Linked DNA regions of Homo sapiens. The protein of the gene in region 1 interacts with the protein of each later gene in a pairwise test. Each region holds a gene or a part of one and is shown on either strand. Other genes may lie near its edges.

Region 1 (3,652 bases):
TTTTTTTTTTTGGCAAATAAAGAGTAAAACAGGCTATTTAAAACATCCATTTAAATGCAAATTTTGATATCCCAAGAGAAAAATGTTAATCATTTAAATAGACAGGATTATCGCCCACCCTTACCACTTCCCTCCTCTCCCAAGTTTTAGAAAACGTAGCCTTAGCCCACACAAGTCAAGTCAGCCAGGAGTCCTTACATCTTAAGAACTCCCACTCAGATGAGAGGGCTGAGGCAGATAGAGGGGGACTTTTCCTTCTTTTGAGGAAGGAGATGGAAAAGAGAGAAAATAGTCTAACATATCCTATAAGCCAGGCATGGGGCAATATTATAAATACAAACACACACACACACACACACACATGCATGCACACACACACACCCACACTTAATCATCACAACTGTCTTGGAACGGGGAATTATCATCCTCATCTACAGACAAGGAAACTGAGGCTTAGAAAGGTGAAGCAGTTTGCCCCACTGGTAGGTGACCCAGTTGGGAGTAGAGGCCTCCATAGCCCTCCCAGTCCATGGTGACCTGCGGTCCTGTCCAGACTCACCCAGCATCCCCATGCCAAGCATGAACGCGTCCATGGTGTAAGGCAGTCCCCGGGCCCGGCCTCTTGTCCCAGGTGGGAACATGACTTCTTTCGGCTGAGCTTTCTTACATTCTACCTGTTAAACAGAAAGGCGAACAAATGAGATGCAAATGAATTCCACGTAAATGTCAAATGCAGAACCTGTCTGGTTATGAGCTAAGTTATTTTTAGCCTTGCTCCTTACCCACTGTAAAAATAGCCATGCCGAGTAAATGGCCTGCAAAATAAATACTTAAGAAAACACGCCACTTGTGCAAATCCTGCTTCGGAAAAACCTACAAGGATGAAACTGGGTTCTGGAGGGGTGGCAAGGACGTAAGCTGCAGATATACACACAGATTGAAGCTCAGGCTGACGCTCGTGCAGAAAGCATGACAGATAAGGAGGCAGACAATGGCTGTTGGATGTGTCTGTGAATAATAACAACAATAGCAATAATAATAATCCCTCAGGATTTTTCAGCCCTTTACACATTTACAAATGCCCCTGACATTCTCTCAGGCCAGTGACTCTTCATGCCAGGCCATCTGATTCAAACTCTTATTAAACAGACAGACCACTTAGCCTTAGCTCCAGTTCACAGATGAGAAAACAGAGCATCAGAAGTTTTGTGTTGGCTGGGCGTGGGGGATCATGTTTGTAATCCCAGCACTGTGGGAGGTGGAGGCAGGTGAATCAGCTTGAGCCCAGGCGTTTCAGATCAGCCTGGCAACATGGTGAAACCCCGTCTGTACTAAAAAAATACAAAAAACTAGGCAGGTGTGGTGGCACACACCTGTAGTCCCAGCTACCTGGGAGGCTGAGGTAGGGGGATCACCTGAGTCTGGGAGGTCAAGGCTGCAGTGAGCCATGATCACGCCACTGCACTCCAGCCTGGGTGACACAGCGAGACCCTGTCTTAAAAAAAAAAAAAAAAAAAAATTCTTGTGCAACATGCTGAAAGCCCTCCCCAACAGGTTCAGGCCTACAAACCAGATCTTTAGAATTTCTAGGTCAGCAATGCCACATTTCCACAAAACCTACACCACCACCACACTCCTGAGGGAAGTAATAAGATTAAACACTGATTCTGTTCATCTGGATTACTAGTTTCTCATTTGCAGCTACATTTTCAAGTGGTTGCTAATCTCCCCTTTCTGTTTCCCTTCTGACTCTCAAATTTCTTCATGCTAATCTGCTTGTATACCCAGAGGTCACTTATTTAATAACCTTAACTATGCGAACTATAAACCTCAGGGAATAAGTAAAACTGTGGCCCTCGGAAGCTCCTTCACTGTTTTACCAGAGCGCCTTAGGCCTGTGCTTATTAGCACTTATTTGCTTTTTGTTTACAGAGAAATTTAACAAGCATTGTTAGCCAGTCATCAATCCCACTGCTGATGAAGATGGGATGTTGCAGGGTAAGGCACGGATGCTTTTAACAGCCAAAAGAAACAGCATGGCCGCCTGATAGTGACGGAGAAAAGACAAGAAACAGGTATCTTATTTAAATGACGGAGAAAAGACAAGAAACAGGTATCTTATTTAAAGAGCAGTCTGGGCCATATGGTATAGGAACAAAAGCTCTACATAGTTCAACAGCTGCTGAGGTATCACTGTAACACAGAAAATTGCTATTGTTCACAGGTGTGCCTGAGATAGCAAGAAAAAGTTAAACTGTGTGCAATATACATTGTTTAAACAGAGACCTCTAGGCCGGACGTGGTGGCTCACACCTGTAATCCCAACACTTTGGGAGGCTAAGGCAGGCAGACTGCTTGAGTCCAGGAGTTCGAGACCAGCCTGGCTATCGTGGCAAAACCCTGTCTCTACTAAAAATACAAAAAAATTAGCCAGGTGTGGTGGCATGCTCCTGTAATCCCAGCTACTTGGGAGGCTAAGGCAGAAGAATCGCTTGAACCCGGGAGGTGGAGGGTGTAGTGAGCCGAGATCGCACCACTGTACTCCAGCCTGGGCGACAGAGCGAGACTCTATCTCAAAAAATAAAAAAAATAAATAAAACGAAAATAAAAAAGGAACCTCTATGGGTTATCCATTTTGGAGATACTCACATCCCAAATACTTCAATCAAAAAATATTTTAGTGCTCAAGGTTAGGGGGATGCTATAATTACCTAAGATATAAGTCACCTTTCTTCAAAGACACCGGACAACAGGTATTACTCTTGCTCTTTCAAGAATAACCACAAATGCCTTAAAAAGTGGACAAAATGGTTCAACATTCATGACTAATATGCTTAATACAGAGTTCTATAGATTAAAAGAGATGAGCATCCCAAAACAGACATGGGTAAAAGACAGGAGTAGACAATTCACAGACGGCTAATAAAGAACACATTCCCCAAGATGAAGCATATTTTTTGCCCACAGATTGACAGTGATGAAAGCATTGTTTGATGTAAGGGTTTCTGACGGTATAGTGTGGAGGGGTGGAAATTGGCACGTATTTTTCTGGAGGGCAACCAGACACTACATCAAAAGCCATAAATTTATACATACACCTAGTAATCTTACCTCTAGGAATTTGCCCTACCGGAATTAGAATTTTTTTTTTTAATAAAAGGAAATACCTAAAATATAGAAGAACAGGGAATTAGCTGAGTTTGGATTATCCACACTGATTGAATGCTATGCAGCTATGAAAAAGTGTGTTGATAATAATCATGCACTGGTACTGGGAAACCCCTCAGTCCCAGGCAAACCAGGATGATGGGTTTCTTTAACTGCAAGCGGGAAAACAGCAAATGTCACTGACTTTTTGAAAAATAAACAAGTGCATATATCATATAGGGAAAAATACTGAAAAGACATACTAAAGTTGTCTTAGAATCACTCTGTTTTTAAATTTTAATTGGGCATTTTGCTAGTTATTTTCTAAGCTTTCTGCTAAGCAACAGGGAGCAGGTTTTTGTAAGATAATGCAATAGACTGTCACTGATAGGGCTATTAGAATATTGTCATTGCAGGTAGGGGGGAAAGGTGATTGAAAACAACAAACTCATCCAAATTGGCTCTTTTAGGTTTCTCTCCTAAGCCCAGGGGTGAAAACTGGCTT
Region 2 (4,324 bases), on another chromosome or scaffold:
TCTTAAGCTCAGCATCTAAATCCTCTTTTCCCAATTCTTGCTTGGAATCTTGAGTACCTGATCTTGAATTTCTATGGCACTCCCTGAGCGCGGGACTGGCTGGTAGCCATGTGATATTGATTTGTTTTCACCATAGCAACAGCAAATTGAAACAACTAGCAGAGAGAAGGCAGGCTGTTAACCAGTAAAGCTACCTAACCAGTATATTTCACAAGCATATTTTTCTCCTTCCCTCTTGTTTTTTCTCTTATTTACTCCACTTTCACAAATTTAACACAAAAGTCAAAGGAAAAACAGCATTAAATGTTTTGGGCACTACAAGGCCTGTGGCCAGAATAGTGTGCTTTGCAGAGCTTCTAGTATATTAGATTAGATCGATGGAAAAAATGCAAACAACAACGCTTTGATTTCCTTGGAAATTTCATTTGTTGAACTAAGAAAAAGTATCCCTAAAAAATTTACATGAGCACAAAGTAGAGTGAAGGGTTTTGTGTATATGACTATGTATCTTAATACTCTAAGGTGTTTGCCAACAGTTTCTTAATACCGAGGTTTTATCCCTTTGTACTTTAAATAGCTCAATGTGCCAAGAGACAAACAACTTTTTTTTTTTTTTTTTTTTTTTTGGTAAAAGGTCAAGGTCTCAAAATGCTAAATGATGAGGGAAAGTGTAGCAAGTATGATTCAATTCTATTAAAAGACAGAAAAATCAAGGTAGGCACTTGCTCAAAACTACGTGAGTAGTCAGAGAGGAGACACAAATTAGCTTTGGGAACTCCCGAGAACTCCAATGTGCTCCAGTCAAAATCTTTTTTAAAAGGTTCCTTTGTAAACATTACCCTTCCCCCGATCTCTGTGACCAAGGTTGCCACCTGTGACATGGATTTGCAGCCTGCAGTATTGTACTTCCCCTGCTTGGGGCCATCTGTGCTAGGACATGATGATTTTTCTATGAAAGCAGCTGTTCTCACCATCACAACCAGCCTTGAACTTGGTGGCACAACCTGGATCCTAAATAGTGGCTCTGGAGCAACTGGGAATAGGGCCCCGGGGACCATCCACCCAGGTGGCAGCGCTGGGCTGCACCAAGGGGGAGTCAGGCCAGAAAAAAAGCTTTGCCCTGCTCCCTGCTGCTTTTTGCCAGCCCAGCCAGAAGCCCTGCAGAAAACCTGTGCTGACCGGCCCGACATGTGGCAGGTACAAGAAGATGCCCTATTTATGAGGGGACAGGTTTACAATTTACAAAAGACAGGCGAAAATATAAAGACATAACTTAAGTCCTGCCAGTGGGGAGTTAGAATGTTCCTGGCCAGGACATAAAGAAATATTCCTCTCCACAAGCTCGAATAAAGGAACACACAGCAGAAATAGTTGGGGGATGACGTCAGAAGTTCTGGGCTAGTGTCCTGCACTTCTCCTTGAAAGTAAAAACAGTGGGTCTAGAAGAATCTACGTGGCATTGCCCTTATTTAAATGAGTAGTTCTACTGCTCCTTGCAAAACAAGTAGGATAGCTGAAGAAACTTCCTCTTATTTAAAGATTATAAGAATGTTCCCCCTGCCTTTTTTAAAAACCTTATTGTCCCCAAAACACACACATTACCCAATTAACAAATAGCTTTCCACTTAACCTTTGTCTTTTAAAGGGACAGTAATGTTTCTTGTAGAACATTCAAGGTGGTGGTGGTTAGGCAAGTCAGATTTTTTTCTTCGCTTCAGTGCTTGCTAACTATTCTAAAAATGTTACACATTTATTGTAAACACATGCTTCCGAGGCCTAACAAAAAAGCACAGTTTCCTCATGCCTGGCAGAAATTTAAAACGGAAAAGGGCAGAAAGAATTCTTTAGCAAATATATCCTTTCCTTCTCCTGGGCCAAGTGTGTTAAAAATAAATCTTCTCCATCATTTCTCACTGCTGCTTCTCAGCGAGAAAGTTGATATGGTTCGGCATAGTGAAAACACAGCTTTAAAAGCTAGCCTGCCCTCATTAAATTATTCTGCTGGCTGTGTGTTCTCATTAAAAATGCATAAAGATCAGATAATTGCAGTAAGCATTATTAACCCAGCTTTACTTTTGAATATAATGGTTCCACTTTTAAGCTGGAAACAAAGGCTCAGACATGCCAGGAAAAGAAATGTAAACATTGAACTACAGTATCGAAAACTTGCCAGAAAGCTACCTCTTGCTAGGTTGTTTAAAATGTGCTTTTGAAACTCAATTAAAGCTGTAGCATTGTAGAGCTAGGTAGGTCCCTAATTTTTAATAAATAGACACATACGTTTGGCCAAACATTCAACCGATGATTATTTACCATGAATTTTTTTTTAATCCTTAATTGCAAGTCTGTTTTCAAATAATAGGATCCATGTAAACTTTATCTATTTGGGAACTAGCTATGGCAATATAACAATTTTTCACAGCAAGAAAATAAGATTGCTCCAAAGAATTCAAATGGTTTTTAAAAAATAATATAATAAATGAATCGATTCTTTGCATAAAAACTCGATTTCTTGCCTCACCCCAAACAGGCGGCATAGATTCAAGCTTTGCCATTTCTTTTTCTCAAATCAAAATGTTACGTAAAACTCCAGGGTCCCCCGCAAGTATTACAATTGAATTAGTGGAATCCAGTTTCCCTGGCTCCCGTAAGCAGCACACATGGAATGCAGCATACTGCAGCAAACTCTTTAAACATTCAAAAAAGGGGGGCGATTCTCCTACCTTGTTTAGCTCTGCCTGTCCTTCCCATTTACAGTAACCCCAGGAACATCTGGCAGAACCAAGTGGCCGAGGCTTCTCCACCGCATCATGAGAAAGAAACTTCCATGTAAATAGTTCTCATTCCCTGTTTATTGTACTCTGAAAGCCGTCTGCCGTATCTGGAAAATTTTACCTTCAGATGATGAAGCAAAGACAGTCTAAACTCTGTTGCTGTAAGCTGCAGCCCTTCCTTCCGACAAATCCCTCCCAGCCGGGGCCAGCCAATCCCCAGCCAGCTCGTCAGCCCTACTCGTCTGAAACTGGCCCTAATAGGATGACTGACACAGTAACACAGCACTTGCAGTGTGTAAAAACAGTGCATCCATACTGATGAAAGAGGAATTTCCCTCTCAGAAGAAAGCAATCATAGCACCAAGACAAAGTGGCACATAATTGGCAGAGCAGAGAGAGGGGTAGCTCAAGAAAACACCCTTGAAGACAGCCAGCTCGAAGCCAGGAGCTTCACCGTGAACACTTGGGAAAATGTGAAACTCCGCAGATTCCAAAGAAATCCAGGTTGTACATGAAACTGAAGTCCTTGGACTATCTGACAAAGCATATGTATATGTTTTTTAAAGGAAAAATAATTCAACGTCTGCCATGGCAGTTAATACCTTACAAAACATTTACATATTTCCATTATTGAGGAAGAATGTGCTAGCCCAAGTGCGTATTCAAAATCAAAACATGCTTATAGCTCTGGCACACACAGGTTTCCTGTATAACATCTGTTATTGCAGTGGTTAATTACTGCGGCCCATTTATCTTTCGTCTAAGTTTTCAGACCACTTGGGACTTCGATTAGGGAATGCTGGACAATAAAATTGATATCTATACACTACCCTTTTCTACTCTTGGCAGGCACCCACGAGAGGATTAGGTGTGCTTTAACCATCTTAGATGCCATTTGATAAATACTGTGCATTGGCTCACATTATCGTTAATGAAGCAATGATTATAGGAAGATGTTTACTGTTGAATACAAGGGGTACATGATCCAAGGGCCCCCATGAGGTGCCATTCCACAAAAGATGTTCTAGGAGGTGCTGGAGTTTCCTGAGATAAAGCAGAAGAAGAGAAAGTTTAGGAAGGGTTATTTATTTATTTATTTATTTATTTATTTCCCAGTCTACAGCATTTCTGTATGCCTTGAAAACAAAAACTCAAAAACATATGGCATTGAGCAAACACAACAAGCATACATTTTCCTCCCCTAAATACCACATTTTGAGAAAAAAAAAGTATGATGATTACATGATGAGACCAAGACAGAACAAAGCCTTTATTCATCTGAAAGGTTGAACCCAATGCACGATTTTTATAAGCAACTGTTCAGCGCATCTGTAATGAAGCAACAGAATGCAATGGAATGCTTTCTTTTTATTTTGCCATTGCATCTTAAAAACATAATATTTCATATAATTTCTAGGCTACTTTCTTCAATAACTACCATGCTTTATTCCCCTCAGTTTTTATACTTACATTCTTTGTCTTCCCCATGTAATTCTATCACATATCCTAACTTGCAGGCTTTCATCTACTGTAATACTTCTGGAAATTTA
Region 3 (3,652 bases), on another chromosome or scaffold:
CATAGGCTTCAGAGAATAGTAAATTGCATAGAAATTCATCAATTTAAGTTACATGGTACCATGACAACTTGTATATTAGCAGCTTGACAGACAGCTTCGAATTTTCACAGACTACTACATGAACTGTTATGGCAACGGAAACTTTTACAAATAGTAGCATGTTAAAAGACCTGTCCACCTAACAGTACACTACCCACCGCTCCCATCAGAGACATGACACGGTTTGTTTACATGATCCAAATGACCATCTCAATGGTGATTCGCTGTTATCACTCACATCAGCTAACACTACTCTGTGTATTTATATGTGTGTATACATATTTATGAAATGAGAATACCTGGACAGTCTGATTGGTTAACAGCGTATTGGTACAGTTTTGTCTTCTATTACATGTCATTCATTTCAGCCCTCAATTTTAGAACTCTAAATAAATAAAATGTAATTTACAAAGATAAATTGTTATTTACAAATGCAAAAATTCATCCTGAGGATTTTGGTATCTAGGAGAACTGTTTCACAGAAAAAAGCAAGTATCAATCTGTGAAATAAAAATGCACCTTGAGTTAAACTAAATAATTCATAATTACAGGTTAATTTACCCAAGTTCCAGCCAAGAAAAGCATGAAGATATTTAAGAAATCTTAAATTGATTTGCATGCAAGAAATTAATCACATACAACTTTTCAAATCCCAATGTTATTCCCCCTTAAACTTCTTGTTTAATGTTTTAGTCTGACTGTATTTGTAAAGTAGGTGACAGAGAAAAAAATACCTGAGGAAAGCTCAGTAACGTGCTGAGGGTTCTTTTCCTCACTGGAAAGCAGCGGGGCTTCAGGCCACCATGAGAAACAGCCAGTGGGCCTTTGACTTTACCCAAGTTAAGCTCCCCTAATAGGAGTAGTTAGCTAAACAAGTTCAACGCTTTCCAAAGGAAAAAGGTCAAGTTAAAACAAAAATCTAAATAAAGGTAAAATATCAACAGTTTCTCTGCTTTACAATGTGACCATAAAATTACTTATTTACAGAAATTAAAAGAAATGGTTCAACAAAGAATCAAACTGGTTTCTCCAGGTATATACCATGACAATGTATCTTTTTACTCGATGCTGTGAGCAGACAGTGATTATTTTGGAGAAGGAAAAATAAGGTGTGGAATTAGTAATGCAGATGCTGAAAGGCAAGTGGCAAGAGAAGAATGCCTCAAACAAAGGCTACTTTGTTCCCATCTCTACTGCACCTACACCCACACCCGCCCCGGCCCCCAAGCTAAAAGACCAGAATAACCAAAGCCATTTTAACAGTAGTGTGCAAAACTGTCAGCTGACAAACAACATAAAAACAAGTCACACTATGTTATCTGTGGTCACGTTCTTCAGGGTTAGTCCAGTAACTCAAGACTTTACATTCTTTTGTCTTTATTTGTTTATTTTAATTAAACATATAAAGGTTAATAAACAGACAAAGTCCAGAGTTAGTAGGTTGGTATTATAACATTTATTAAAATAATGCTGTGGGTTAATAGAAACAGCAAAGAACCAAAGAATTAAAATGCAAGCTATGTAAAATCCCAACTAAAACCCAAAAGTGTCTAATGTATTCATTCATTAGCTAACTAAAAGCCCAAAAAAGACAAGACACCCAATATAATAAAGTACTGCAAAACAATTGGCAATTTTCAGTTATCAAAATTGTGGATTTTGCATTTTGTATCCTTTTCTCAATCAAGAAAAAAATTCTTTTTGAATGTTATATAACATACATATAAAACAAGATAGAAAAATACATTATAAACTTGTAACAATGGCTGTAAATACATTATCTTACATGTTTCTCATAGGCAATAGGTTGGTTATGGTACATACATAGCATGAAACTAAGATAATAAAGAATAGACAAAAATACATGTCAGCTGTACGATAACATACAAGCGACACTCCCATCTACCCACGCTAAAAAATTACATAATACTGTCAGAAAAAAAGTCTTAAAAACTACATATTTTAATAAGAAATAAATTCAATAAAGAATGATAATACTGAGAACCAAGGCATTCAGAGATTTCAAAAGTCATGCTTTTTTCAGTTGATCCAAAATTTTGTCAACCAAGTTTTCAAAAGTTTGTTCAGAGCCAACATTCCCTATAAATGTCACACATTTATTATTTCATACATTTACTTTCTTCCCCATAAAAGACCTTTGATAAACATCTAAAATGTCCAGGTATAACATAGTTGAGATGAAACTGGATCAAATACTGGTATTGTTTTTAACAACTATCACCTCAAGTGTTTGAGTGTCGCAAATTTATTCAACCAACCAAACAATATAAAAATCAAAATGGCACAGCATATATTGTAAATAAATCAAAACTGTATGTGTAACAGAAAGACAAAGCAGTGGCATATTAAACCAAAGCTAGCTGGATACAAAACAATGAATGTCTATTGCATAGTAAATAAACTGACAACGGTTTCCAAGTGAGACAAGATGGTGGGGGAGGTCACCAAGAAGGTAATGACTCAGCTTCCTGCTGACCTCTGACTGTGATGCTGGGAAGGTGTGGAAGAGGGGACGAGTTGATAAGCTGGGCGGGGGGGGGGGTCCACTGTCACTTGAGATTTGCCACGTCTGGTACTGAGCAGTTAATGATTATTCACTCAAGTGTTTAGATGTAGGCTTTGCACACAAATTGCTTCAACTACATAACTAACTGTTTCAACTTCTTGAGAAATTAGAAGCTTAAGCTGAAATGTGGTTGAGTATTTATATGCACTATGATGCTAGTTTTTCACATTCTTTTAAAGTTAAGGGGTGGGGGAGGCAGAGGTTATTGAAACAGTAAAAGGATACACTACACCAGTTATCTGGTATGATATAAAGACATGTGATTAAATTTGGGTGATTTAAAACATTGTTTTCTAGAATGAAAATCACAAAGATTCACTTTTGTGAAAACATTTGCTAGGTATCCTATTATATTCAATTAATTAAAAACAAAAAACAAAATCAAATGAATGCATCCCCCTTCTCCAAATAAAACAAAGCTCTAATTTTGTCTGTAAACTGAAGTTTAGATGACACATAATTTTTATCTCAGAATCCTTTGGGTTAACATTGAAGATTGGAATAACCAAAAGTATTAAACTATTCTTTTAAAGAATGATGTTTTAAAACTTACTAGTCAGGCATTAGAAAAGTTATCAAATCTTTTCACAGTATCAGATTTGGCAAATTTGCATCAAGGTAACGTGGCAAAAATCCTATAATTCAAACTATCAACTCATTTGTCTCCCTCATATCTTCTTTCACATACTGGGCGACTGAGTAACATGCATTAACTTGTATTCTGAGGGAGGAGCTGATCTTTATGAGACACTTGACTGAATGACCATGAAGGAAAATAAGGCACTTTCTTTTCTTTAGACTTATTCCAATACTTAAAAAATAAAAAAGAAAGACAAAAAGGCTCTTTTGGTCTTTTGTTTCTTGACAACCACCAGAAAAAATCATTTAATGAAATAAAGGGTTTCTTTGTTCTTTTTCTTTTTTTTTATAACACTTGAAAGTATAAAATGCTACATTTCCAAAAATATATATATTTTTTTCTGCACCAGCACCCTTGTATAGTAAAAGTATCTACTTTTTGTTCAT

What was found.
Region 2: the proteins of MSI2 (region 1) and MBNL2 interact in a two-hybrid assay, tested with the Homo sapiens proteins (one large-scale study listed by BioGRID).
Region 3: the proteins of MSI2 (region 1) and QKI interact in a two-hybrid assay, tested with the Homo sapiens proteins (one large-scale study listed by BioGRID).

Annotation. Positions count from the first base shown.
Region 1 is NC_000017.11:57,612,992-57,616,643, reverse strand, and holds part of MSI2 (RNA-binding protein Musashi homolog 2), read right to left. Parts: intron 675-3,652; coding exon 560-674; intron 1-559.
Region 2 is NC_000013.11:97,220,931-97,225,254, reverse strand, and holds the start of MBNL2 (muscleblind-like protein 2), read right to left. Parts: upstream 2,923-4,324; 5' UTR 2,724-2,922; intron 1-2,723. UniProt on the Homo sapiens protein: Mediates pre-mRNA alternative splicing regulation. Acts either as activator or repressor of splicing on specific pre-mRNA targets. Inhibits cardiac troponin-T (TNNT2) pre-mRNA exon inclusion but induces insulin receptor (IR) pre-mRNA exon inclusion in muscle.
Region 3 is NC_000006.12:163,571,621-163,575,272, reverse strand, and holds part of QKI (KH domain-containing RNA-binding protein QKI), read right to left. Parts: 3' UTR 1-3,652. UniProt on the Homo sapiens protein: RNA reader protein, which recognizes and binds specific RNAs, thereby regulating RNA metabolic processes, such as pre-mRNA splicing, circular RNA (circRNA) formation, mRNA export, mRNA stability and/or translation.